Homo sapiens: one gene and its partners. The protein of the gene in region 1 interacts with the protein of each later gene in a pairwise test. Each region holds a gene or a part of one and is shown on either strand. Other genes may lie near its edges.

Region 1 (4,469 bases):
TTGAAAGAAATATTTCCAGCTTCTCACAAAGGCAACTCTCCAGGAATTCCAAATCCCTCTGCGTGTGCCCTTGGAACAGCAGTGACAATCTGAGAAATAAAATAGGGAATTTGCTGTCTACCTTAGGAACACATCGAGTTGAAGATGGGGCACTGGCTGAGCACACGCAGAGCTAATCATGCCCCGGATATGAACCACTCACTGGCCTGGTCATCCTAATTATTACTAGGCATAAGGTACATGATTCCATAAACCTTGGCAGTATAAGGACACAACAAAAAATACCAGGTTTTTCCAAGGCAGCACACTAAGCATTTCAAATATTTGTACCAAAAAAATCTAGCATGCAAGTTTCAGAAGCTTATCTGCACTTAGCTCACTGATATGGAAAAAAGTCTTATAATGGTCTGATTTATTTCAGAGCAGTTTCAGTTCCTTAGAAACTTAAAATAGCATTATAGACTTTTTTATTTTTTTTGAGACAGAGTCTCACGCTGTCACCCAGGCTGGAGTGCAGCGGTGCAATCTTGGCTCACTGCAACCTCTGCCTCCCGGGTTCAAGCGATTCTCCTGCCTCAGCCTCCCCAGCAGCTGGGATTACAGGCGCCTGCCACCATGCCCGGCTAATTTTTGTGTTTTTAGTAGAGACAGGATTTCACCACGTTGTCCAGGTGGGTCTCAAACTCCTGACCCCAGGTGATCCACCCGCCTCGGTCTTCCAAAGTGCTGGGATTACATTATAGCCTTTATACACAGCCATACAAACATTTCCTACTTCCACTAAGTCTTAGAATGATTTTTACTGACCAACAGGCATCATGGAAATGTCTGGAGCATTTGAGATTTTACGAGTTAATTTTCATGTATTAGCTGGGTATATACTTCTTAAAAACTGTAATCTTCAAGTCAACTTATCACATTGTATTACAGTTGCTGTTACCTGATCAGAATTCAGTATTTTTTTTTTTTTTTTTTGAGACAGAGTTTTACTCTTGTTGCCCAGGCTGGAGTGCAATGGCATGATCTCGGCTCACCTCAACCTCCGCCTCCTGGGTTCAAGCGATTCTCCTGCCTCAGTCTCCCGAGTAGCTGGGATTACCGGCATGTGCCACCACACCCGGGGCCTGGCTAATTTTATATTTTTAGTGGAGATGGCGTTTCTCCATGTTAGTCAGGCTGGTCTCCAACTCCCGACCTCAGGTGATCCGCCTGCCTCAGCCTCCCAAAGTGTTGGGATTACAGGCGTGAGCCACCACGCCCGGCTAGAACTCAGTATTCTTAAACCAGCGTTGCCTACCAAGTTTAGCAATTCCGGGAATGCCAACTGTCCTTACAGTCACTCTCGTATTTGCTTAGCTATGAGAATAATTTGGGGCTAACTTCACCAAAAAAGAAAAACAAGCAAGAACATCACTCTAGTAACAATAAAAGCCACTGTATTTTGCTTTCATCAAATGTGGCACCTTGTGAACCAGCTTTCTTAAAATTATTTATTTTAACCTTTAAAAATTTCTGCCAGGTAGAGCTTTCTTCTTTTCCACTGTGCAACCCACTTCAGTGCCAGCAGCCTACGGGCACAGAGGCCAGGCAATGGTTCGGGGACACAGTTTGCTCTGGCATGGGGTACTATGACAGGCCCAGGGTGACGGGCCTGTCATAAATCCAAACCCATGCATAGAATTTGCTTTAAAGCTCTATCTATTGTGACTGCTTGGCATTGTCAACCTCCGAAGTTGCCTAAATCACCCCTCGGAGAAGGGAAGAGAGTAACAACGCTAGCAAAACCATTTTTGTTACAGACATGGTTATATATTTTTGTTTATATGAAGAATATTTACAATTTAATAATAAATAGGCTCATGCAGTCTCGGACTGGGTCATTTGAGGCCTTATTAAATATTTTTAAGGCAATGTTCAGGCCTAAACTTGGAAAGTTTTGATTTCTTTTTAATACGCCAATACTTTTTTGCTTTTCTGTATCTTTTAAGGCGTTACTTAAGTAACTTACTTGAATATATTTTACTGAAGAACACCTTTCGGTCTTTCTGTAACAGCTAAGTTATTTAAAATGGTCAATCAATTAGCACAAGAGGATAATGTTAGAAGAGATAGGGGCTAATTCAAACAAACTTTGAAAAAAATTTCACAAATCAATTAAAGTCTGCCCAATTTTATGTTTAAACAAAGTCAGCCAACACATTCTTTGTCCTCCCCAGACATTCCTGAGAGGTTCTGCCTTCTACACTTTCACCAATTATTTCGACTTCGCAAACAGCACAATCAGCCTTTTCTGCAAACCTTAGGGCTGTCTCCCCTGTGTATGTCCGTTCATCTAAGCCAAGCTTTTCCGAAATCACCGAGTCATTCACAGTCCTTAAATAAACACCTCTAAGTCATGGCCGAGCATCTAATATCACAGCTACTACAGCAAGACTATCTTAGCTCTACCCACTCTCGCGGGTTTCCAAATTGGTGTCATCTGCTCTGTAGACACAGCGAAAATAAAAACTGGAAGGAAACTGAAGGCGCCAAGGCCGGGGCCCGCTCGTCTGTACCAAGGCGAGCCCGGGCTCTGCGCCCCTGCACCTGCTGCGCGGCCGCCAGGGCCTCCCCAACGGCTCCCCGGCCAGCGCGCGGCCGCCGAAGGGTTGGGAAAGAGGCCGGCGCGGGGCCGCAGGGTCTCCGGGTGGGTCTCCCCTAGGCCCCTCCAGCCCCGAGCTGTGAAGACGGGGGCAGAACGAGGCGCCCGGATCACCCTTATCCAGCCGCGGGAGAACCCCGGGCCGGGAGGAAGCGGCGCCTCAAGGTCGTGGCCCGCTCGGCGACCACGTGTCTCCGCAGGCCGGCGAGGCGCGCCGCACACGTGCCCGGGGCCCGGGGCCCGCAGCCCGCCCCGGCTCCCGCCCTCGCTCCCTCCCTTCCTCCGCGGCCGGGGAGTCCCTCACCTCAGAGCGCCCAGGCGCCGCAGGCCAGCCCCATGGGGAAGCGCAGACGCCGGAGCCTGAGTCGCAGCCGCAGGAGCGCTCGGCCGCCCCCGCCGCGCCCGTCAGCGCCTGGCTCCCGCCCGCCGGAGACGCCGGCCCGAGGTGGCGCCGGAGCTGCTGGCAGAGGGGCGGCGGGCGGCGGCGGCGGCGGCTACAGGAGGGACTGACAAAGCCCCACGGCACGCCGCTCCCTACTTATAGCACCGGCGGGTCGCCATGGAGACGCACCAGCTCAAACCAGCCACGATCGGTTCCGGCCGGGACACCGCCGGGGGAGGGGCGGGGGCCCGGCGGTGGCCAACCCGGGCCCGCGCGGAGCTGGTGGGGCGCCGGCGGGCCGACGTCAGCCGAGCCGAGCACCGCCTGCCCCACGCGTGGCCCCCGCCCCCGGCTTCGCGCCCCGCCCTCCCCGCCCTGCGGCCGCCTCTCCCCGCCCTCCCCGCCCTGCGGCCGCCTCGCCCCGCCCCGCCCTGCGGCGGTCTCGCCCGCCTGGAACTGGTCCGCGCACGCGCACGACGCCGCAGGCCCCGGCCCCGGCCCGCGGCAGCTGAACGGCAGAGCCTGTAGCTGCACAGCTGTGCTTCCACCTGGCGTTCAGTACCTCGTGCCCGAGAGCGGAAAAGGGAAATCGCGAGCGGAGGACCGATGTGCTGGCCACGTGGGCCCCGCCGGGCCGACTCCGGACCCTGCTGCCGCCCATTCCTCCGGTGCAAGGGACCTGGAAGTGATCCCGGTGCCGCTCTGCTCCCACCAGCTAGGGAGCAGAGGCGCGGGAGGGAAGGGGCGTCCCGGGGGTCGCCAGCACGCTGCGGGCAGGGCTGGCAGCCGCCTCCACGCCCCCGCGCTGGAAGCCTCGTCTTTGTAACATCGAGGTATCCTGTAACTAGATGGGTCCTGGCCTGCGGAGGTAGTTTCCCCTGTGAAGCCAGGGACTCAGCCAGGAGCGTGAGGGGACCCGGATCCTGAGTCTCCAAGCCGCCCACTACCCTCTGCTTTACCGGATGGAACTCATCAGTAACTAGGTATCTTTAAGGGCGGCTCCCTGGCGCGCTCTGAGAGTTACGGAAGTCCCAAAATGCTTTGACCGAAAACGTCTAAACAGTGAATACATAAAGCAAAAAGCCGCGTGGGAAATTCGAGTCCCTAGGAGCGCCCAGGGGACGCCTCTGGAGGTGGACTGCCACTCACTCCAGGCCACGCTGGAATGCCCGCACCAGGGAGGCACTGCACTTGAATTGGGGACACTTTTTTTTTTTTTTTTCATTTTTACCTTTCATTCCCTTTTGGACAATCCAGACAGGATATGTCTCTCCCTAGGGTGGGGATTTCGACTCCTTAGGGTGGGAGTACAGCCGATGAAGAGTTAAGGAGAGGAGTGGGTAGATCTAGATCTAGCCTTGGGTGGGTGGGGGCGGGGTTGGAGGAGCTCAGAGCACTGGCCCAGCGCTGCCCCCAACTTGCTGTGTGCTCTTGGACAAGTTATCT
Region 2 (3,940 bases), on another chromosome or scaffold:
AAATGATGAAATGCTTATTTATAGTACTTCCCCCAGCCCCCAGCCCCCAGCCCATCTGTATTAGCCATCTGTATTTGGTTGTATTTGCAGTGCCTAACAATTTGTCACTGGCTGCAATTACCATGCATATCCTTTCATCTTCTAGATCTTTAATTTATTAATTAGGAATAGGTATAATATGGCCACTCATGCCTATCTACCTGACTTCTTAACTTCAAGAAGTGCTTTTGCAGCTTTTGACCCCTTACAGTATACCTCATTTGATATATACTGTAGCAACTTAGAATTCTTTACACAAAATAATGTATTTGATAATCAAGCCATATACAGCATCCACCTGCAGGCTGCACAGACGAGGAGCTGTGCCAGGTCTAGAAACTCGATTTGTATGAGTTTACTCAGGGGTAGGGAAGTAACACACAAAGACTAAATGCAAAGAGACTAGTGTATAAACCAGAATGCCACTCTATTAATTTGTAATGAGAATTATTTATTTTCCATAACAAAACTTTAAGAATATGCTATAACACACGCACGCACGCATACGCGCATGCACTACCCTCACCAAGAAGGCTCCTGGTAAGCATGGTATCAATGCCACGAAGTCCTGGAGAAACATTCCCTCTCCTAAGAATTGAGAACATCTAGAGCTGCTCCTTCATTTTACAAACAAGGAGATTGAGGCCCAGAGAGATTAAGTGACTAGTTCATGATACTTGTGCAATGAGGCAGTGGGGGACCTGGCACTGTTATTACAAGCATTTATTTGAATTCTGTAGTACCACTGCTGACACTAATTCTGTTCTTTCTGCAGAGAACAGAAAAAACGCAAGCAGCAGAGAACAGGAAAAGGAAATCGAAGAGGCAGAAAGAGACAACAAAACACAGAATTGAAGGTGGAGCCTCAGCCACAGATAGAAAAGGAAATAGTGGAGAAAGCACTGGCACCTATAGAGAAAAAAACTGAGCCACCTGGGAGCATAACCAAAGTATTTCCTTCAGTAGCCTCCCCGCAAAAAGTTGTGCCTGAGGAACACTTTTCTGAAATATGTCAAGAAAGTAACATATATCAGGAGAATTTTTCTGAGTACCAAGAAATAGCAGTACAAAACCATTCTTCTGAAACATGCCAACATGTGTCTGAACCTGAAGACCTCTCTCCTAAAATGTACCAAGAAATATCTGTACTTCAAGACAATTCTTCCAAAATATGCCAAGACATGAAGGAACCTGAAGACAACTCTCCTAACACATGCCAAGTAATATCTGTAATTCAAGACCATCCTTTCAAAATGTACCAAGATATGGCTAAACGAGAAGATCTGGCTCCTAAAATGTGCCAAGAAGCTGCTGTACCCAAAATCCTTCCTTGTCCAACATCTGAAGACACAGCTGATCTGGCAGGATGCTCTCTTCAAGCATATCCAAAACCAGATGTGCCTAAAGGCTATATTCTTGACACAGACCAAAATCCAGCAGAACCAGAGGAATACAATGAAACAGATCAAGGAATAGCTGAGACAGAAGGCCTTTTTCCTAAAATACAAGAAATAGCTGAGCCTAAAGACCTTTCTACAAAAACACACCAAGAATCAGCTGAACCTAAATACCTTCCTCATAAAACATGTAACGAAATTATTGTGCCTAAAGCCCCCTCTCATAAAACAATCCAAGAAACACCTCATTCTGAAGACTATTCAATTGAAATAAACCAAGAAACTCCTGGGTCTGAAAAATATTCACCTGAAACGTATCAAGAAATACCTGGGCTTGAAGAATATTCACCTGAAATATACCAAGAAACATCCCAGCTTGAAGAATATTCACCTGAAATATACCAAGAAACACCGGGGCCTGAAGACCTCTCTACTGAGACATATAAAAATAAGGATGTGCCTAAAGAATGCTTTCCAGAACCACACCAAGAAACAGGTGGGCCCCAAGGCCAGGATCCTAAAGCACACCAGGAAGATGCTAAAGATGCTTATACTTTTCCTCAAGGTAAGGGCTGTTTATAGCACCAAGGTAGGTACATCTCCCCCAGAGTAGTGATTTACAACTTTCTCTGACAATCCTGGGTATTCCCTGTTATTTCAATGGATACTGTGAATTTCATTGACTAGTTTTAAGTGAACAATATTTTCATGCAACCAACGTCTGTCTTGGCATATTTCAAAGAGTTAAAAAAATTGAAAATGCAAGCATGTACATTAAGTACTTATTCATACTATCCATCCATTATGAGATGCTATAGTCAGTGAAATGAACCCAATATAGGATGAATTATTGCAAAATATTTTTAAAAATTAAGTCTACATTAACAAGAAAGCTTGATGAATGAAGTTTTTCTAGGAAATTTAATTTGCCTGATAAATGGAAAGCAGGTAAATTCATAGTACGAAGTACTGAGGGAGATAAAAGCTGTAAAATATAATCCTGTTACTAGGGAATTCATTCTTGTAGGATTTATCAGGTTTACCAAAAACCCTTTCTATTTCAAGATTTGTTCCTGAAAAACTTTTTCCTAAGTATAGGAATTTGAAAATAATGCAACCTTTCTTTAATTTCACTTGCCTCAGAGACATAACTGAGAACTTCAGCTCTCTTTGTACAATACTGTAGACAGTATAAGAAATGGACTGAGTCTATCAGACCATAGTTATCCCCAGGAAACTGATTTCTAAAGAAATCCCTTTAGTAGTTTACTTGCTCTTTATCCTAAAAGATGAGTGCAACAAAAACATGGTGCTAGTTGGTTTCCAAGTAATACCAGTTTTGAAGAACTACTTTAAAGAAATACATTGCAGCAAAAGCAGGCATGTGAAGCAGTACGTGCACTGACAGGAGTACCCTGCTGGAGAAGCAGCTCTAACCAACACAGCGTCCTGATTCCTAACTGCTTCATTCTAAACCCAGCAAGGTCGATATGGTCAATTAATTAACGCTTATTTTATTTTTGGCTTTGTTTGACCAAATAAATGGGAATATCTATTTTTCCTGATTATAAAAGTAGTAAGTGTTCATTATAATAAAGCAATATGTAAGTGAATATCAAGTAAAGTAAAAGTCCCCTATAATACCATCTTCTATCTTCAGTTCCCAATGTTAAGGTTGTTTTGTTTCAACAAATGAGACAGTACCCATCCTATCCTGTAACTTGTTTTTGTTTTCATTTACAATATGTATTGCAGCCATCTTTATGATGTCTTTTGTAACAACTGCATAGTACTGTGCTATATGTATATTCAACCAGTCTCTATAAGGATGAACACTTAGGTTACTGCCAAGTTTTACTATTACAACAATGTTCAATGAACATCATTGGGAATAACATTTATTTAGTTAACATTTATCTGGTACTTTTCTATGTGCCAGACACCATATTAAATATTTTATGTGGTTTATTTTATTCAATGTTAAAAGCTCTACTGGATAAATAATACTCCCATTCTAAATATAAGGAAATGGAGGCACTGGAGGCTGAAGTTTGTCTGATTATTTCCTTTGAATCAACCCCTAGAAATCAAATTGTTGGGCCAAACGGTACCCAAATTTAAAGTTTGAATATACAGTCAGTCAGACTAGCCTCCAGAAATGTGGTAGCAATTCACACGAGACAGGTGCCTTTTCCCCACACCCTTGTCAGCACTGTACATTATGACATTTTAAAAATCCTTGTCTGTCTGCTAGGTTAAAAAATACACTTGATCGGCCGGGCGCGGTGGCTCACGCCTGTAATCCCAGCACGTTGGGAGGCCGAGGTGGGCGGATCACGAGGTCAGGAGATCGAGACCATTCTGGCTAACACGATGAAACCCCGTCTCTACTAAAATTACAAAAAATTAGCCGGGCGCGGTGGCGGGCGCCTGTAGTCCCAGCTACTCGGGAGGCTGAAGCAGGAGAATGGCGTGAACCCGGGAGGCGGAGCTTGCAGTGAGCA
Region 3 (4,676 bases), on another chromosome or scaffold:
ACAATTCACAAAACAAATCCAACTGGCCAATAAATATGAAGTGATACTCAACACATTAGGATATAGGGAAATGCAAGTTTGAACCTCAATGAGATACCATTACTCACATATCAGAATTTCTAAAGTGTTTCAATTTTTGTAACTTCAAGTGTTGTTGAAGATGGGAAACTGCACTGTACAATGGTACTATAACTTTGGAAGAGTTCAGGCTTATCTCTGCCGAAGTTGAGGTTAGGCTTTCTCTATCACCCAGCACTTCCAACAGCAGGCTGTGCGCGTGGACAGGAGGATTCTGGCAAGGAATGTTCGCAGCAGCACTATTTGTAATAGCTAAAACCTGGAAACAACCTAAATGCCCATTAATAGTCAAATGGATTTTTTTTTAAACTGTGGCATATTCATACAGTGAAAAACTACAGCTGCATAAAACCACAGATTAACAACAGATTTGAACAAATGAAGACATACTACAGAGGGAAGAAAAAAAACAAGGACATGATCACCGTAAGGGTCAAGAAAGTGATCATCTTTAGAAGGGAGTTGGGACCCAGGAGGGACAGGTTGGCTTCTGGGCTGTAGGCAATGTTCTCTGAGTGACTGGTTGCACAGGTGTTCACGTTGTAAAAAGTCATGAAGCTGCACATTTATTTTGTTTACACATACAACATAACTTATGTTGTATGTTCTTATATGTTCGATTCACAACAAAAATGTTTTAAAATAATCTGAAATATTAGATCACTGCTTATTTTTAAATGTATGGCATATACCCCTTGAAAAGAGCGTTCTCATTGTGAGGACTTTAGAGAAATTCATTTTCTTGAGAAACAAAATTTGGTTAATGAGTGTTTCTCATTAATAATCTATACATCAGGATTAAGAGCTGATTTTATTAAGGTCTACCCTACCAAAAGCTTTCCCATAATAATCCAAAATAAGACGTTTTCCTATTTCTATATAAATTCCTTTGCATGAGACATTTGTTTATTAAAACACTTAAAATTGTATTTGGAATAAACCACCTAAAGTGGTTTGTTCTGAAAAAAAAAAAAAAAAAAAAAAGCCTTTTAAGAACTTGGGTCTTTTTGTTGTGGTCATTTAAAATCAGTATTTTAGACACTCCACTCGCTCTCAGTGTAGAGAGAATGTATTCGATTGCGTGTTGGAACTACGTGTAGACAAAACGATCGCGGTTAAAGCTTGCGGCTCAGAGCCCACCTGGCCGCGCTGCTGGGAAACGGACGGAGCGGCGCTTCAATCAGAGGTGAAGGTGCAGCAGCTGCTTAGCTGGCTTTGGTCCATCACTTCTGGGGACTTCAGATTCTCAAAATCTTAAATTCTAAACCCCACAGGAATGCAAATCTGCCCACCTTTTCCCACATAACTCTACCGTCGCTCAAACTCTTCCTGGTACCAGCGGGGAAGCGGAGGAGACCCAGGCAGGGGCCCGCGCTCGCTCGGCTGCAGCCCGACTCCCCTGCGCTCCCGGCCCAGGGCCGCGTCCCGACGGGGAAGTGCGCTGCGCCCGGGCGCCCCCGAGTGGAGGGGGGGGGAAGGAGGGAGCCGGCGGCGGGCGGGGCGGGGCGCGGTGACAGCCGAGCCGGGCCCGCCCCTGGCTCCCACCCCCGAGCCCACAGCTCCCGCCCGCCCGCGGCCGCCCGGGAGCTCGTCCAGCCCCGCGCTGCGCTCGCCCGCCCGCTGCCCGCCGGAGCACCGCGGCCTCCGCCCGCGTCCATCTGCCCGCCGCCCGCGCCTGTTCCGCAGCCCGCGTCCGCGCCGGCCCCACAGCTCTGCGTCCGGGTAAGCCCCCACCCCGCCTGGGGTCCCCCTCGCGCTCGCGGGGCTCCCTGCCCCCGCTCCGGGGCCTCAGCCATATCTGGGCAAAATATTCAGCTGTCGCCGCCGCCGCCAAGAGGGACTGAGCGTGGCTCCCTCTATAAATAGCTGCCGCCTCGGGTTGCCTCTGGGGCTAGGGAGCCCGGGTCTCGGGGTTCCGAGCCCAGCGCTCCCGTCCCCGCCTCCCCGCGCGCGCAGCCCTGGCCAGGGCGCCCTCCGCTCTGGACCTCCGCACCGCGTCTGTGAACGCGAGAAGGACCCGGGGTTCTGGAGGAGACGGCGCCCCGGGCTGGGGTCCTGGCGGAGGGGCGCCCCCGCCACCCGCAGGACTCCAGCGCGGCGGGGCTCTGAGCCCGCGGGGTGCTCAGCTGGGTACAGGTGCCAGCCGGAGCTGGGCTCGGGGGCGCGGCCTCTTCTCCGCCTGCAAGAGTCTGGGGGTGGGAGTGGGGGAGTAAAGGCTCGACTGGACGTGGATCCCAGGTTCGCGCTGAGAGTGTTTGGGGCAGGTGAAGTTTCCCAAACTGGGAGAGACAAGGTTTAAAGCACCACGACACGCGCTACGCGGCCAAGTGGAGCTGGAAAGAGCTTGGAGGCGGGAGCCCCAGGTTGTCGCCGGCTCTCGGCATGGCCTTGGCAATCCCCCTCTTGTTTCTGGATCTCAGTCTCCCATTTGTAGGGGCGAGGTTTGGTAGCCGCGATGGAGCTGGGAGCCCAAGCCCTGAGAGCTGCAGGGCGCGCTCTTGGCCGCCTGCGCTCCCCACACCTGTTCACCCTCTCCGGGCCTGGGACGCTGGGGTCCCAGCCGCGCACATGCGGAGACGCTGCAGAAATCGGAGACTGACTGCCCCAGACTCGATCGTATCCTGGGACTCACTAAGGCCGTCGGATATCCTAAGCCGTACAACCCTAGGAAGTGCACTTTTGGGGTGCCTATGGGCATCTCTCTGCTCCGTAGCCGGCAAAGCAGCCTGTGAGCCACGCAGCTTCAGATGCGATGAGCTGGGCAGGGGCAGTGGTTCCAGTACAGCCGCTCCCTGGCCACAGTTTCCCGGTCTATATCGGGCCTATGATGCGTCCTCCAACCTGCGCAGCGCCGCCCCCTCCTACACCCTTCACCCACCGCTACTATTACAGACCCTGTCTCCAGCCCTCGCCCTATGCCCTCAGACTCTCGGAGACGACCTGGCCCAAGCTCCTCCGTGTCTGAATCGCAGAACCAGACCCTGAACCCAGGTGCTGGGCCCTCAGCGTGAGAACCCCTAGGGCCCCCACCCCATCTTTCTTCCAGAGGTGACTGCCATTTTGTCCTCTGTGCAGGGCCGCAGAGCCCCCTGCTCAAGGTCACACAGGGCCGGTCACGCCAGAAGTTCTGCAGTCTCCCAGCCTTTCCCATCTCTTTCCGCACCCTTCCCACTGCTCAGGCAGGTCCGGGAGCTCTGGGAGCACCCGATCAATGCCCCCTCTTCTTGAATCTGCTGCTGTTCTGGACTTTACCTTGTCTGGACAATAGCGCCCTCATCCTGAAGTTTCCTTTTTGCTTCTACTTTACTTTCTGTTATGTGTTTTTTTCTAAAGCCATCTCAAAGACTTACAGAAAAAAGAATTAACGGGAAATGGAGTCAGATAATAAAGTTTCCATCAGTTAGAGCCACACAACCAACAGGCAGAGTGAAAACAAGAATACTGTCACTTTGGTGTATTATCTTTAATGAGCTAGTCTTACAAACCCGTGTTTTAGAGAGTCATTGACCCTTGAGTTTCTCCCAGCCTAAGATGAAAGCCAGTGTCCTCTAAAAATAGCCTCCGCCCCACCTTATCAGGGTCTCACACCTTCTCCCTCCTTCAGGGTAGGGCGTTTTCTTGCAGCTCAGCAAAAACAGAAAACACAAAGTAGGTGTGGCAGCTCTGAGCAATGGGAGGTGGACTGGCCTGGAGGTTAGGATATCTGGCTCCAGCCCCAACTCTGCCACCCACTCAGAGGAACCTTGAGCAATGAGGGGGCAGACAAGGTGGTCTCTAGTGGACCTGGAGTGGAGAGGGCTTAGAGTCTTCCTTGGAAGCCTTTCTAGCATGACCCATCCTGTAAGGAGGAGCTGGGGAAGGAGTGAGAGACAGTGGCTTTCCCAGGTGCCAAGGGAGGACAGAGGTGGGCAGTGTCACTTGCTGTGGAGAGACAGGAGTAGGGGGATGAGGACTGGGAAAAGACCATCAGGATTGGCAGGGATCATGAGTGACTTAGACCAGGGTATTGCAGCAGGCTCAAAAAATGAGATCTGCCAGTGACCCAGCCTGTCTGAGCCTCGTTTTCTCCTCATACAATGGAGACAACAATAGCCCCATTTCATAGGGGCTGCTTGTGAGAATTAAGTGAGATGATTCAGGGCAAGCCCTCAGCCCAGAGCCTGATATTGCAATGATAGTATTCGTTGTGGTGAGGGGGAAAGGCAGGAGCTAACAGGAGCTGAAGAAGTTCTCCACTTCTTCAGGCTGTAGGCTGAAGAAGGCTCTCAACAGAGCCAGCAACTCTTTCTAAAAGCTTGGATGAGAAAGGAAGGGAGAGGGAAGGTAGCAGGAACTGAGGACAAGGAACAGAAGGGAGGCAGGCATTCTAGGATAAAGAGTATGGCAAGTAGTGAGAAGAACCCAGGAGAGGGGAGAGAGTTAAAGGGGAATCTAAAAGGTGTGCCCATAATGAGGATTGGGGACCTTCCTTAGTGACTTGCAGAATGTCACAGACTCTGCAGGTGGCCTTCATCCCCTGGAATGAGCAAAAAAAGGTAAAACGAAGCAGATCCTGGCTCAGACCCCTATGTCTCTGGCAGACCAGTATCTGCGATGGA
Region 4 (3,940 bases), on another chromosome or scaffold:
CAGATGGATTAGATTTCATTCCCCACCCCCCAGGTCAAAAAAGACCATAAACAAAGTTGAAAACCAAATGACAAGTGAAGAAAAAAGTTGGTAATTATGATCAACAAAAGATCACTAAAAACACGTATCAGTAAGAAGATAAATGCTATAATGGAAAAATAGGCAACAGATTTGAACAGGCAAGCCAGAAATAAACAAATAGATTAAGCAGGAAAAAGTATTCAGCATTACTACTAATCAAAAATATTAAAAAAAAAAATAGGGTAGCATTTCTTTTGCCTTTTATTTGGACCAACATTAAAAATATTGATGATAAAAAATACTGATAGAACTCAGTGAGGCTATGGATAAAATGGCACCCACATGCTTTTCTGGTTAGAGTATAAATTGGTACATTTTTCCTGGAAGTCACTATTACAGATTAAAATTTCATGTTCTTTGACCCCTCAATTTTTATTTTAGATATTCTAAGTAGGTGGTTAAAGATATAGAAAGATAGATGCATGGAATGCTCATTCAACATGGCTTTTAATTGCAAATATTAGAAACAATCTAAATGTTCATCAGTTGGTAACTGGTTAAGAGAATTTTCTGTTTGATTGTTTTACAATAAGCATAAGTAATTTTTATAAAAACAGTAATATTATTTTCCAAGAAGGAAGATATTTTGGTACGTTTCTTCCTGGTCTTTTTCAATGTACTTTTTAATGTGGTTAAGATTACATTGCATAAGCAATTTTATCCAATTTTTTTCACTTAATATTATATCATAAAATATTTTTCCATATAACTTAAAACTGGCTGCTTAATATTCCATGGTAAGCATACTTCATAATTTACTTTCCATATTCCTTTCGAAAATAACTAATAGTGTTATTTGTGATATTTTAGGCCAAACTGTATTATGTATTTTCCAGTGTGACTTAGTCTTATATCCTGAGAATAAAATTATGATGCTGAGAGTTATTTAACCTCCTCAATATAAAGCCTAGTTTTAATTTCTCTAATAGTCTCTTCTAAAGCTTACTAATAAGAGAAGTGTTACTTCTCAGAGAATTGTATAACATAATGGAACATAAAACTAGAAGCCCCTGTGGAAAGATAATCTAAAGAATCTTAGTGAGACTTCTATTAGCCATAAACCTAAGGTTATTTAACAGTGTTAGCATTTGAAATCTAATTGCAGGCCTTTGCCCTTTTTGTCAAAACCAAAGAAGTTCCAACAAAAAGGAGTTTTGAATGTAAAGAAAAATTGTGGAAATGCTGTCGGCAGCTATTCACAGACCAAACCAGCATCCATAGACATGTGGCAACACAACATGCTGATGAAATTTATCACCAGACAGCTTCTATTTTAAAGCAACTGGCTGTGACATTGAGCACCTCAAAGAGTCTTTCGTCTGCAGATGAAAAGAACCCTTTAAAAGAGTGCCTTCCACATAGCCATGACGTGTCTGCTTGGCTCCCTGATATAAGCTGCTTTAACCCTGATGAGCTGATAAGGTAAGATTTTCATTCTGTATTTTGGTTTGATTTAAAGTATTTTTCCAACCACAATGAGATACTACAATTCACCCATTAAAATGGCTAAAGTGAGAAAGACCAACTGTGTCAAATGTGAAATGAGGATGTGGAACAACTGGAACACCCAGTCACTGTTGGTGGGAATGTAATATGGCACAACCACTTTGGAAAAGTGTTCGGCAATTTCTTAAACATGCATCGTTCCTGTGGCCCACTCCTGGGTATAATACCAACAGCAATAAAAACATATCCACAGAAAGCCTTGTACAAGAATGCTCATAGCAGTTTTATTCATAATAACAAAAAACTGGAAACAACTGCAAATATCCATCAACAGGAGAATGAATAAACTGGTATAGTCATGTAAGAATATTGCACGACAATAAAGTGCTATGAACTGCTAATATTCAAGAACGTATATGGGTGAATGAGAAAATCCTTATGCTGAGTGAAAATAGCCAGACAATACATATTTTCTGATTTCATGTACTTGAAGGCAAAACTAATATATGATGATAGAAAGGTTCTGGCAGAAAGTTTGGGAATACACAAGAGATTTTTTGAGGTATTGGAAATGTTCTGGTTTTGATAGTGGTGTGGATTACACAGGTATACTTGTGTCAAAAATGATCAAACTTTACACTTAAGATCTGTGTATTTCACTTGTAAACTGTGCCATGCTTTAAACATTTTTAAATAAATAGGGCAGGAAAAACTAAGCAAAAAAAAGGGGGGGTTTCTTTTAAGCTAGATATCATTATCTGTATGATTTCAAATATACGTATCCAGAAAAATGCATCATTTACTAGGTTTATTGGGGAATGTAGCATTGCACATAGGGAATTTTTAAGAAAGCAGGTAAATGTAGCTTACATTTTAAAGCATCTAAACTTTCTTTGATTTAACCTTTTTTTTTTTCTGGAGTCTTTCAAACTGCATTAGACTCTTCTTTAATTGCATAATTAAACAGAGTATAGTGAATGTGATTGAACTTTTTGTGAGTGCTTTAATGCCATCAGGATGAACTTAAGTAGGATGCCAAGGTATAAAAGTTTGTCTTTTTACTAAGACGGCTCAGACTTACTCTTCTGTTACCTCTCCTCCCTCTCTTCTAATTCTAGATCCAAACTCTCTGTATTATTGCTATGTACCAAATTCAGCTTACAGCAGCATAGTTGGTGTTACTAGCTCAGAGTCTCTCATGAACTTGCAGTCATCTCATTGCTTGACTGGGGCCAGTAAATCTGTTTCCAGGTTCACTCATGTGGTTGGTGGCAGGCTTGTTTTTTCAGTGGCTTTTAGTCAAAGGCCTCCATTCCTCTCTGTGGGGGTCTCTTCATAGGCTGCCTGAGTGCTCTCATGACATGGCATGTGATATGTGAGAGACAGAGACACTTCAAGACAGAAACCACAATCTTTTATGACCTAATCTCAGATTGCCATACCATCACTTTTTATTGATGCTATTGGTCACGTAGACTAACCTCAGTACAGTCTAGGAGAGAACTATGCAAGGGTCTAAATACCAGGAGGCAGGATCATCAGGGATCATCTTGGAGGCTGGGCACCATACCTCAGAGTTGTTACTTTTTAGTGTGTATTACCTAGCAGCACTGCCTGCACTTTACCTATTCTTTCAGGATCTTAACTACTTGCAACAGCTAGATCCTTAAGGCACAGAATTCTAGAGGCCTAAGTTAGGCCAATAACATGCATACTATATATAGCCAAAGACCATAGCCTGTGCAGCAGCATATACCCAGTCAGTTGACATTGTTTGTGAGGTTTTTTCTTTTTTTTTTTGAGACAGAGTCTCACTCTGTCACCCAGGCTAGAGTGCAGTGGTGTGATCTTGGCTCACTTCAACCTCTGCTTCCCAGGTTCAAGTGATTCTCCTGCCTCAGCCTCCCGAGTAGCTGGGATTACAGGCATGCACCACCATACCCAGCTAATTTGTATTTTTAGTAGAGACAGGGTTTCACCATGTTGGCCAGACTAGTCTTGAGCTCCTGACCTCAGGTGATCTGCTCACCTTGGCCTCCCAAGTGCTGGGATTACAGGTGTGAGCCACTGCATCCAGCCTGTTTGCAAGGTTTCTTGGAGACCATTCTACATATTCTTTAGGGAGGAGAGGTAAAGAAAGAAAATTATATTATTTTCAAAAACAAGTGGGAAGACACAGAGACATTAATGATTCCTCTACCCTATGTAATGTCAGAGCTTAAAAAAGGGTTTTGTATTAGTCTGTTTTCATGCTGATAAAGACATATCCAAGACTGGGCAATTTACAAAAGAAAGAGGTTTAATGGACTTAACAGTTCCGCATGGCAGGGGAGACCTGATGATCATGGTGGAAGGCAAGGAGGAGCAAGTCACATCTTACGTAGATGGCAGCAGGCAAAGAGAGAGAGCTTGT
Region 5 (3,940 bases), on another chromosome or scaffold:
AAGGGTTGATGAAAGGTGAATTGAATCAGCAGTCAGACCACTTAGGAGTCAGTTCTAACCCTCTAGTTCTTTAGAAACTTCCTGATATAGTCTTCTAGTACAAGACACCTGAGAGCTTTCAATGAATTTCCAGAAGACAGTAAGCAAGCTGACAAATTTTATAACAATAATGAACCACTGTTAAAGAAGCAGCAGCCAAAATATGCATGAATGGTATCAATACATCTAGGAAGATAACACAATCTGTTATACAGAACCTTTAAAAGAAATCAGGTACAATGGAGGATAAAAATAAGATGTGGGTTTGAAAATATGGTTATTTATTGAACGTTTATATATATATGAGACATTTGACTTCACGCTAATCCCTTCCTCAAGTCCTGGAAACAGAATGCCTTGCATCCAAGAGTTTACCTGCAACAGAACATAAAAAAATAGAGGGATCATGGAATAGGAATACTATACAGCCATGAAAAAATGAAACCATGTCCTTTGCAGCAACATGGATGCAGCTAAAGGCCATTTCCCTAAGTGAACTAATGAAGAAACAGATAACCAAATACCTCATGTTCTCAATTATAAGTGGGAGCTAAACATTGGGTACACACGGACATTGGGAACAGAAGACACTGGGGACTGCAAGAGGACAGAGAGAGGGATGGGGGCAAGGGCTGAAAAACTACCTATTGGGTACTTAATATCAGGGTGACAGGTTCACCTCAGCATCATCACACAATATACCTATGTAACAATCCTGCACATATACCCCCGATCCTAAAATGAAAGTTAAAAAAAAAAAAAACCCAGAAGGATCTTCTCAAAAGAATGAGAATAAAATCTTTGGAAAGAACAAAAGGGGTGGTGTGTGTATTGCTCTTTAGAGAAAAAACATCCATAGCTTTGTACTTAGGATTTACCCAAAGGAAAGCAAAACTAGAAGCTGACAGGCCATTCAGGTACATAAAAGTCTTGCTGAGCTTTTTGTAACCTTTTAAAAATTAAGAAATGCCCATCTCCTTTTGATTAGTGTGAAGAAAGCCACAAGAGTTACCACTGTTCTCTCTCTAACAAACACAACTATCTGCATAAACTACAAAATTAGTTTTGGGGTTGTTGGTTTTTTTTTTTTTTTTGGTCTTTATTTTTGTTTTGTTTGTAACTCATTAGATTACTGAGAATGCAAAGAATCTACATGAATTGAACTCCAGCAAGTGACAAGCTGCTCCATAGGAAACAGAAAGTTTTCTCTCCTACATGCTGATTTACAATTATGATAAAGCAGCAAAAAATAAACCCAACAGAAAAAAATAAGGAGAAATCAACAGAAAATTTAATGTACTTTTAATGGATATGTGTGGATTGGTTTGATAAACTAGAATTCCAAGAAACTGTAGCCACAGAGTAAGTCTTTCTCTATCTGCCAACTTTCCGTAGAGCTTCACCATGTGCTCAGACCGAGATCAGGGGTGCAAGCTGAAAGAAATCTGAGGCATTGCACACCTTCATGTAAAATAAGGCAGCTGCCTTTCAATGAATGGGGTCAGAGGAGCAGAGTAGAGAGAGAATAGGGAATAGGAAATGAAAACACCCTTATATCATATTTCACAAACTGTTCTAAAGACAGCAAATTCTTGCTCAGCTGCTTTTCCTTGCTGTAAAATAAGCTACCAGTAATTCTAAACCAATCTAGAATGCATTGTTTCTGGACCAAATATAAGCATGCATACTTACAAAAATGCTTGGCAATGAGTACTTGGCCTATTTGTCCCCATAGCCATAAAAAATAATGTGATCATGTCTTTTGCAGGAACAGGGATGAGTATCAAATAGCTGAGGAAAGACTAGAATTTATTTTTAAATTCTGTGACTGACTTCCAAAAATCCCTTATCACTAGAAGTACTGGCAAAATATCAGATATTAAAGGATCAGATTTAATTCTTTGATATAAGCATGAAATTTTTACTGATAGCTTTCAGGGCTAGCATAAACCATTAAGTAACCCAAGAAGCATGAGAGACAAGAATGAAGTCTAGTATAAAATGCAAGGCAGGCTGAACGATAACGATGTTTTGTTTTATAGGAAAAGTCAACACTAATAATATACTCCAGAGAAACTATCACCTACTTGGATGTTTTTAACATTATAGCAAACTAAAACGTCAAGCTTCAAAATGACTAAACCTGTAACTTATAGCTGGAACATTTTGCTGAATTTGTCATTATACTATAATTTATAGTGTTCAACATCTGAGGACTCAGCACTATCTTGGCAAACAGACTAACTCCTCCCACCCATCAAAGGTCTCGGGGGTAGGGGCGAAGCCCTTTTCTCCCCATCAATACTGAGCTTTATACCATACAAGAAATCAGTGAAAGGTAAACAACAAGGTACAATGTAATTCTATTATATATTTTGCTTCTGTTATTTGTGACATATACAAGTATATTTTTGGTTTTGGAGCTATAAATTAATTTAGCAAGCTTCAAAGCTCATAAATTTTAACTTTTCAAATGAGAAGTAACTTTTCAAATAAAGTTTAGGACTTTACGCCTATTAATTTTACTATCAAAATGTCTGAAGGACTCCATTTAAATAATTATAATTCTTCTAAATATCATTTGAAGAATTATTTGTGGACACTAGACTCAAGACTACACTAAATCCAAACAGTACACATGACCTAAGTTTTGAAGTTTCTCATCTCAGTTACCTGTCTTTCAACTTGCTACTTGCTCTCATGCTTTCATTCACTAAATACAAACTGTCAGATTCTTAAACTGGACCCTCTCCTCCAAGGCCCTATCAGATTAACTTTGTAAATATGCATCTTCAGTCTTTAAGCACCAACATTTTAAGCTGAGACTAATGCCTAGAGCCACATTTCTAAGTTCAGCACTAAAAATTCATAATTCTGGGGTATTAGCCTAAAATGTACCTGAAAAGTGAACCAAGTTTCAGATATTTTCATAAATCTTGAAACTCCAAACTAGAATTCCAATATTTTTAAAAATATCTCTCATGAAGACAAGGCAACTGTATTTACTGCATCAACACTATTAAAGGATAACTGATAGCAACAAAGGGACCTACCCATATTTCAGAAGGCCAAGATTTGTCATGATAAAATCTAAAAAAATGGGCAAAGGCAATGAGATCCTAAATACCACTATCATAAAAATAATCAGTTTCTATATTTCTATCTTCCTTCTGCTATAAGAGGAACCAAAGAAGTCAAATAGATAATTGTTCTGTCTGAGCCAACAATGAAATCTTTAAGAACAGGTATATTCCCTGTTATTGTCTCAGGGCATTATATCATACCTGCTTTATTTAAAAAAAAAAACCTTCAGAAATAAAAATGAGTTAGCCTTGTGAATGTTTTGAAGCATAGTTTCTTGAATTTCTGTGATGAACTCTTCAAGCAATTCAATTTTTCAGCGTCATCACTCAAAATTCCCTTTGATATGGGATCTATCCCATGATTACTGATATGGTTTGGCTGTGTTCCCAACCAAATCTTAACCTTGAATTGTAATAATCCCCACATGTTAAGGGCAGGGCCAGGTGGAAATAAATGAATCACGGGAGTTGTTCCCCCCCATACTGTTCTCATGGTAGTGAATAAGTCTCACAAGAACTGATGGTTTTATACATGGGAGTTCCCTGCACAAGCTCTTTTGCCTGACACCATGTAAGACATGACTTTGCTTCTCCTTTGTCTTCTGCTATGATTGTGAGGCCTCTCCAGCCATGTGAAACTTTGAGTCCATTAAACCTCTTTCCTTTATAAATTACCTACTCTCAGGTATGTCTTTATTAGCAGTGTGTGAACAGACTAATACAGTTACAAAGCAGCTTCCTCCTTTGTTGTTTGTCAGAGTGGCTCTTTGTTCCTTCAGGATCCTAAACTTCTCATTCAAAGTCATCTCTGTCTGTTT
Region 6 (3,940 bases), on another chromosome or scaffold:
AGGAATGATGGTAGATATAAAGATAATCTCTTTGTGGTATAGAAGAAAAGAAAAGAGGCAGTGTGATAGATTGGGAAATGTTAATGTTAGACAAATAATTGATACATTTAACATGTAATAGCCTTTTATGAGTTAATAAGAGAAAGACATCCCCTGTAGTAAAAACAGATGCATATGACATGAACAGGCAATTCATGAAAGAAGAAATGCAATGAGTACAAAAAAATAGTGATAGAGGATGAATAAAATATAGTACTTGATAGCCGAACAGGGTGACTATAATAATTCAATTGTATATTTAAAAATAACTAAAAGAGTATAACTGGATTGTTTGCAACACAAAGAATAAATGCTTGAGGTGATGGATACCTCATTTACCCTAATGTGATTATTACACATTGTATGCCTGTATCAAAATAACTCAAATATCCCATAAATATATACCTACTACTAATATATACCCACAAAAATTAAAAATTAAAAAAAGAAGAAATGCAGCTGGGCATGGTGCCTCACACTTGTAATCCTAGCACTTTGGGAGGCCGAGGCAGGTGGATCACCTGAGGTCGGGAGTTCGAGACCAGCCTGGCCAACATGGTGAAACCCCGTCTCTACTAAAAATACAAAAATTAGCTGGGCGTGGTGGCACGTGCCTGTAATCCCAGCTACTTGGGAGGCTGAGGCAGGAGAGTCACTTGAACCTAAGGGGCGGAGGTTGCAGTGAGCTGAGATCGCACCACTTCACTCCAGCCTGGGCAAAAGAGTGAGACTCCGTCTCAAAACAAAAAAAAAGAAAAAAAAAAAAGAAATGCAAATGGCTGATAAATCCACCCTGTTAGTAATTTAAGGAATGCAAAGTAAAGCAATAATGAGACATCATTTTTTTCACCAATGACATGTCTAAGAATGATAATACTAAGTATATTGCTTGGAATATGGATAAATGGACATTGTGTTATGTTTCTGGTAGGAACATAATAGGCATAACCTTTTGTGGGATATGGCTATATATATGTTTTAAAAACCTTGAAAAATCTGTCTACCTAATAATTCTATTTCTAGATATTTATTTTTTATTTTTATGTTACTTTTTTCAATTAATACACAATAATTTTACATATTTATAGGATACATGTGATGTTTTGATACATACATACAATGTGTAATGATCAAATCAGGGTATTTGGGATATATATCATGTCAAACATTTATTATTTCTTTGTGTTAGGAGCACTTCAGATCTTCTAGCTATTTTGAAATATGCAATAAATTATTGTTAACTATAGCTACCTCACTGTGTTATTAAACATGAATAATGTATTCCTTCTATCTAACTGTATGTTTGTACCCATTAATCAACTTCTCTTCACCCCTCCTGCCCCTTCCCATCACTCTACTCTCTACCTCCAGGAGATCAACTTTTTTCCCCCTTTTTATTTAGAAATGGAGGTCTCATTATATTGCCCAGGCTGGCTTCTAATTTCTGGGCTCAAGTGATCCTCCTACCTCGGCTTCCTGAGTAGCTGGGAGTACAGGCTAGATGTTCCATCCATGTTGTTGTAAATGACAGGATTTCATTCTTTTTTTTTTTTTTCTCCCTAGACGGAGTCTCGCTCTGTTGCCCAAGCTGGAGTGCAGTGGTGAGATCTGGGTTCACCGCAACCTCCGCCTCCTGGGTTCAAGCGATTCTCCTGCCTCAGCCTCCGGAGCAGCTGGGAATACAGGTGCATGCCACCACGCCTGGCTAATTTTTTGTATTTTTTAGTAGAGACGGGGTTTCACCATGTTAGCCAGGATGGTCTCGATCTCCTGACCTGATCGGCCCGCCTCCACCTCCCAAAGTGCTGGGATTATAGGCATGAGCCATCGCGCCTGACCCATTCTTTTTTTTAATGGCTGAACGGTATTTCATTGTGTATATACACCACATTTTCTTTATCCAGTCATCCATTGACAGACACTTAGGTTGATTCCATATCTTGGCTATTGTGAATGCTGCTGCAATAAACATGGGGCTGTAGGTATCTCTTTGATATACTGATTTTTTTTCCTTTGGATAAATACCCAGTAGTGGGATTGCTGGATCATATGGTAGTTTTATTTTTAATTTTTTGAGAAGCCTCTGTACAGTTTTTCTTTCTTTTTTTGAGACAGGATCTCACTGTGTTGCCTAGGCTGTAGTGTAGTAGTAAGAACACTGTTTCTTGCAGGCTCACACTTTAGGGCTCAAGGGATCTTCCCACCTTGGTGTCACTGGGACTACAGGCACCCACCACCACACCCAGCTAATTTTTAAATTTTTCAGAGAAGAAGGATCTTGCTATGTTGCCCAGGCTGCCCTCAAACTCTTGGCCTCAAGTGATCCTCCTGCTTCAGCCTTCCAAAGTGCTGGAATTACAGCTATGAGCCAGCGTACCCAGCCCATACTGTTTTTCATAATGGCTGTACTAATTTACATTCCCACCAACAGTGTATAAGAGTCCTCTTTCTCGCCAGGCGTCGTGGCTCACGCCTGTAATCCCGGCACTTTGGGAGGCCGAGGCAGGTGGATCACCTGAGGTCAGGAGTTCGAGACCAGCTTGGCCAACATGGCAAAATCCCGTCTCTACTAAAAACAAAAAATTAGCTGGGCGTGGTGGCATGTGCCTGTAATCCCAGCTACTCAGGAGGCTGAGGCAGGAGAACTGCTTGAACCCGGGAGGCAGAGGTTGCAGTAAGCTGAGCTCGTGCCACTGCACTCCAGCCTGGGTGACAAGAGCGAAAATCTATCTAAAAAGAAAAAAAAAAAAAGAGGCCTCTTTTGCTACATCCTCACCAGCATTTGTTATTTTTTATCCGTTTGGTGATAGCTATTGTAACTGGGGTGAGATGGTATCTCATTGTGGTTTTTATTTGCATTTCCCTGATGATTAATGATGTTGAGCATTAAAAAAAATACCTTTTGGTCATTTGTATGTCTTCTTTTGAGAAATGTCTATTCAGATTCTTTGCCCACTTTTTAATGGAACTATTTGTTTCTTTGCTGTTGAGTTGTTTGAGTTTCTCATACATTCTAGATATTAGTCCCTTGTTGGATGACTAGTTGGCAAATATTTTCTCCCTTTATACAGGTTGTGTCTTTGTTGATTGTTTTAAAGAAATAATTATAGGCAGCAGTATGGATTTATGTGTAAGCAGGGTAATTACACTGTAGTTTATAATAGTGGAAAATTAGAAACAACCTAAATAGCCAATAATAGCCAATTTGTAAAATTGTGAAGCATCTACGTAATTATAGAAAATTATTTACATGGAAACATTTTTATTATACTTCATCACACTATTCAAAATAAATGTTTTATTTTCTTTGTTCTTTCATCCACCCATTTATTCTATCCGTTAACAGTTTATTCTATTCATTGCTCCTTGCTATTCCACTCCTTTGGGTTTATTTTCTTTATTGTTGAAATATTCCTTTAAGTACTTTTAATGAGGGGCTTGGTAATAAACTCTCTTAGTCCTTGTATGTCTGAAAATGATTATTTTGCTTTCATTTTAAATGATAATTTACCTGGGAATATACCAACTCTCTCAGCACTTTGAAGGTATTTCTGTCTTTTAATATCTTGCTTTTAAAAGCAATATATTATTGCTTTGTCAGTCTTTTATGTCTCATTTTTTTAATGATTCTTGTTCTTTAATGTTTTGCAATTTCCCTTCCATGTATTTAGGCAAATTTGGTTTCTTTTTAATGTATGCTACTTGAGGCTGATGTGCTTTTTCAGTTTGAGGTCTTACATTTTAATTATCAGTATATTCTCTTTGAATAATTCCTTCTTACTGTTTTCTTTGTTCTTTCTTTCTGGGACTTCTACTTGTTATTAAGCTTCTGATTTTATCCTTTATGTCTTTTATCTTCTTTTTTATACTTTTCATCTTTTTATTCCTCTGTGTTCTGAGT
Region 7 (3,940 bases), on another chromosome or scaffold:
AGCCACCTCCGGCCTAGTAAACTGATTTTTAACAAAGATGCTAAGGAAATTCAATGAAGAAAGTTCAATGAACAGTGCTAGTAAAACTGGTCATTCATATGCAAATAATGAACTTCATATTATATATACAAAAAATTAACTCAAAATAAATAATTTAGGTCCTAAATGAAAAGGCTAATAGTATAAAACTTCTAAAAAATACACAGGAGTAAATCTTTGTGGCCTTGGGTTAGGCAAAGACTTTTGAGAACCATAGAAGAAAAAATTGGCTGGGCACGGTGGTTCACGTCTGTAATTTCAGCACTTTGGGAGACCAAGGCACATGGGTCACCTGAGCTCAGGAGTTCGAGACTCGCCTGGGCAACATAGTGAGACTCCGTCTTCACACACACACACACACACACACACACACACACACACACACACACAAAAGCTGGGCATAGTCGCACGTGCCTGTAGTCCCAGCTACCTGAGAGGCTGCAGTGAGCCGTCATGGTGCGACAGAGTGAGAACCTGTCTCAAAAAGAAAAAAAGAAGAAATTGACAAATTGGATCTCATCAAAATTTAAAATGTCTGCTCTTCCAAAAGCTGTTCAAAAATGAAAAGCCACAGATTGTGAGAAGATATTTTCATAACAGACGTGGTAAAGTTGGTAGTCATATATAAACAATACTCAAAACTCAATAATAAAACAAAGATCCCAATTTAAAATGTGCAAAACACCTGAATACATATGTCACTAAAGTAAAAATGAAGATGGCAAAAAAACACATGAAAAGATGCTCAACAGCATTAGTCATTAGGGAAATGCAAATTAAATTCACAATGAAGTATCACTACACATCTATTAGAGCAGCTTAATTTTTTAAAAAACTGACAATACGAAGTGCTGATGAGAAAGCAGAGCATTTAGAACTCTCATACATTTCTGGTGGGCATGCAAAATAGTACCTTGAAAAATAGTTTGACAATTTCTTTTTTTTTTTTTTTTTGAGACAGAGTCCAGCTCTGTGGCCCAGGCTGGAGTGCAGTAGCCCGATCTCGGCTCACTGCAACCTCTGCCACCCAGGTTCAAGCAATTCTCCTGTCTCAGCCTCCCGAGTTGCTGGGACTACAGGCACACACCACCTCGCCCAGCTAATTTTTTTGTATTTTTGGTAGATATGGGGTTTCACCATATTGGTCAGGCTGGCCTTGAACTCCTGACCTCAGGTGATCCACCCGCCCTGGCCTTCCAAAATGCTGGGATTACAGACATAAGCCACTGCCCCGGCCAGTTTGACAATTTCTTACAAAGTAAAGTATACACTTATATAACCCAGCAGTCCTCTCCTACATTATTGCCCAAGAGAAATGATGACATATGTCCACACAGAAACGTGTGTGTGTATATAACAGCATTATTTATAATTGCCCCCCAAACTGGAAACAATCAAAATGTCTATCAAAAGGTAAGTAGATAAACCAAACTAGTAGCGCCATACAGTGGAATACTATTCAGTAATAGAAAGGAACAATCTGTTGATACATAAAACATGCATGACTCTTATATTATGCTAAAGGAAAAAGCTGGACACAAAAGGCTACATACATGATTCTATTTATGTGAACATTCTGGAAAAGGCGAAACTACAGACACAGAAATTAGATCAGTGGTTGCCAAGGGCTGGGGGTAAGGGGAGGTGATTGGCTATAAAGAGGGATTTTTACTGCATGTACAGCATATCTTTAACCACCACACCCTCCCCCACCCGCCCCCCCCAAAAAAAAGTTCTTTTAAGCTATGCTTCTCTGTGGTCAGCCCTCTCTGGTTCATACACACACTGCCCTGGCTCCTGGCAACTACCAATCTGCTTTCTGTCACTATGGATTATTTTTGCCTAGTGCTTTGTGTTCCATCTATGTTACTGCATTTAACTCAGTTCATTCCTTTTTATTGATGAGTAGTATTCCACTGTATGGGTATACTACAATTTGTTTATCAATTCAAATGTTGATACACATTTGGGTTGCATCCAATTTTGAGATATTATAAATAAAGTTGCCTTGATCATTCATGTACAAGTATTTAGGTAGGCACATGTTTTTATTTCTCTTATGTAAATTCTGAGAAATGGCTTTTCTAAAAATCTAGTATCTATAATAATGCTGGGAGGCTATTATCCTCAACTTATAGATGTGAAAACCAAGGTTCAGATAAGTTAAATACTTAAGATATCGCGGGATGTAGATAAGCTAGGATTTCAATCCAGGTCTGTTTGATGCCAAAGGCCACACTTTTCCCATTATATCACCCTGTCTACTGGTACTGGGAAAAACACCCAGCAAACCCTGAAGAATTAAGAACAGGAGACAAGACAGGAAAGAAAGGGTAAGCAGAGTAAAAAAGAAAAAAACAGTGGTGTGAAATCCACAGCTGACTCCACTTAGTCACAGGGCTGGTGTGGATTCCAAGACAATGGAACAGCTGGAGATACTCAATAGAAATTCATGGCAGAGACAGAGAACTGCAGAGTCTGCACACCTCCACTACCTCTGAAGTCCACACTCTGAATGAATGCCAGGGAGCAGGAAAGAGGACAGCTTTGGGACCTATACTTCACGGTTGCCAGATGTCAATGCTGAAGTATGAATTTTGGGTCCTGAATAGTAAACTGATGACACGGAAAATAGTTTAACAATGGTTCATGACTCATGAGTCAAAGATCACTGAACTACTATACAGTTATTTCCACAAGTAGTAAAAGCAACAGTGGAGACTGGCCAAGTTTTAATTTGCAAGAGGACATACTAAAGCATCACTTGCTTACTCCTCAGTGCCAATCCACCCTGACTATCCATTTCTGATCTCCACCTTCCCCATCTATGTGCTCTTCTTCCCTTCAAAACCCAATCCCTCCCATCAGTTCATCTAGAGCTCTTCTGAGTGAAACTGGGCTTTGCATCTTTGTATATCCGTATGCCTAAGTGGGCCTTGGCTATCAGCTACATACGCATTACATATAGATATAATGTCAGGTGGTTAGCACACATCCAGGGAAAATATCCATCTGGGTGTGACCAGTGTAAACGACTCAAATTAGACTGTTCAATATATCTGACTCCTCCCTGGCCAGACTACTTTATATTCCCCTGCCAGAGTTTCAGTAAGAAGGCCTTACCCTTTGCCTTAAGAATAGAGTTTCCATGGTATTCTCCTTCCCTTCATTTTGGAAAGAGCATCTGCTCCACTGCCACCTCCCCTCTGTGGTCTACTTTTCTCAGCTACATTAGGAGTGGACAGCAACCATTAATTTATGGGGAAAAAATGTCGGATAAATGCATTTTACTAATGGGTGTCCTGTTACTAAAACCTAACAGAACACTGTGATTCAGGTTTGAAAGGACAGGTCCAGCCCTGTCTTAGAGTCTAATCAGAGGCTTGTTCTACAGGTTGCCCTCTGCGAAAGCCTTCCACTCCTTCCACCCTTGGGAGAACCATTTTAGACCACTGCCCCTGAAATGTCCCTTCTATCTTCCTTATTTCTGCTCTGAAACAGCTGCAAGCAGGGATCTCCCAAAAAGGGCACTTCACAATTTTTTTTTTTAAGGAGCGGCATTCAGGTAGAGTCTTCCTCTTGTCCCCACCCATGACCTGTTTAACGGCCAGAGCAGAGTGAGGTACGAAGCTTTGCCTAATGCTTGCTTCTCTAGTCCCACCCTCTTTAAATGTGTCTTCTCCTTTATATAGCAGATGTCTCGTGACCTCCATCCTAATTGTTCTATCCTTTGCCCCGAGACTCTTGGAAGAAAATTAAATAAAATACCAGTGTGAATCTGCACGGCACAGAAGTGCTCATCCTTATTTTTCACTTTTCCCACCCTATCCAACCTCACATTTACCCACCTTGATTTCTTGGCATTGTCAGACTGTTTTTTCTAAGTTATATTTCTCAATCT

What was found.
Region 2: the proteins of ODC1 (region 1) and HEMGN interact in a two-hybrid assay, tested with the Homo sapiens proteins (one large-scale study listed by BioGRID and IntAct).
Region 3: the proteins of ODC1 (region 1) and TMOD1 interact in a two-hybrid assay, tested with the Homo sapiens proteins (one large-scale study listed by BioGRID and IntAct).
Region 4: the proteins of ODC1 (region 1) and TSTD2 interact in a two-hybrid assay, tested with the Homo sapiens proteins (one large-scale study listed by BioGRID and IntAct).
Region 5: the proteins of ODC1 (region 1) and BAAT interact in a two-hybrid assay, tested with the Homo sapiens proteins (one large-scale study listed by BioGRID and IntAct).
Region 6: the proteins of ODC1 (region 1) and STX17 interact in a two-hybrid assay, tested with the Homo sapiens proteins (one large-scale study listed by BioGRID and IntAct).
Region 7: the proteins of ODC1 (region 1) and TDRD7 interact in a two-hybrid assay, tested with the Homo sapiens proteins (one large-scale study listed by BioGRID and IntAct).

What each region holds. Positions count from the first base shown.
Region 1 is NC_000002.12:10,445,176-10,449,644, forward strand, and holds the start of ODC1 (ornithine decarboxylase), read right to left. Parts: upstream 3,153-4,469; 5' UTR 2,946-3,152; intron 2,838-2,945; exon of another isoform or gene 2,299-2,837; intron 1,675-2,298; exon of another isoform or gene 1,539-1,674; intron 90-1,538; 5' UTR 1-89. UniProt on the Homo sapiens protein: Catalyzes the first and rate-limiting step of polyamine biosynthesis that converts ornithine into putrescine, which is the precursor for the polyamines, spermidine and spermine.
Region 2 is NC_000009.12:97,928,096-97,932,035, reverse strand, and holds part of HEMGN (hemogen), read left to right. Parts: intron 1-814; coding exon 815-2,001; intron 2,002-3,940. UniProt on the Homo sapiens protein: Regulates the proliferation and differentiation of hematopoietic cells. Overexpression block the TPA-induced megakaryocytic differentiation in the K562 cell model. May also prevent cell apoptosis through the activation of the nuclear factor-kappa B (NF-kB).
Region 3 is NC_000009.12:97,500,004-97,504,679, forward strand, and holds the start of TMOD1 (tropomodulin-1), read left to right. Parts: upstream 1-1,662; 5' UTR 1,663-1,800; intron 1,801-4,676. UniProt on the Homo sapiens protein: Blocks the elongation and depolymerization of the actin filaments at the pointed end. The Tmod/TM complex contributes to the formation of the short actin protofilament, which in turn defines the geometry of the membrane skeleton.
Region 4 is NC_000009.12:97,623,244-97,627,183, reverse strand, and holds part of TSTD2 (thiosulfate sulfurtransferase/rhodanese-like domain-containing protein 2), read left to right. Parts: intron 1-1,186; coding exon 1,187-1,503; intron 1,504-3,940.
Region 5 is NC_000009.12:101,371,507-101,375,446, forward strand, and holds part of BAAT (bile acid-CoA:amino acid N-acyltransferase), read right to left. Parts: intron 1-3,940. UniProt on the Homo sapiens protein: Catalyzes the amidation of bile acids (BAs) with the amino acids taurine and glycine. More than 95% of the BAs are N-acyl amidates with glycine and taurine.
Region 6 is NC_000009.12:99,909,455-99,913,394, forward strand, and holds part of STX17 (syntaxin-17), read left to right. Parts: intron 1-2,701; exon of another isoform or gene 2,702-3,940. UniProt on the Homo sapiens protein: SNAREs, soluble N-ethylmaleimide-sensitive factor-attachment protein receptors, are essential proteins for fusion of cellular membranes.
Region 7 is NC_000009.12:97,418,188-97,422,127, reverse strand, and holds part of TDRD7 (tudor domain-containing protein 7), read right to left. Parts: intron 1-3,940. UniProt on the Homo sapiens protein: Component of specific cytoplasmic RNA granules involved in post-transcriptional regulation of specific genes: probably acts by binding to specific mRNAs and regulating their translation.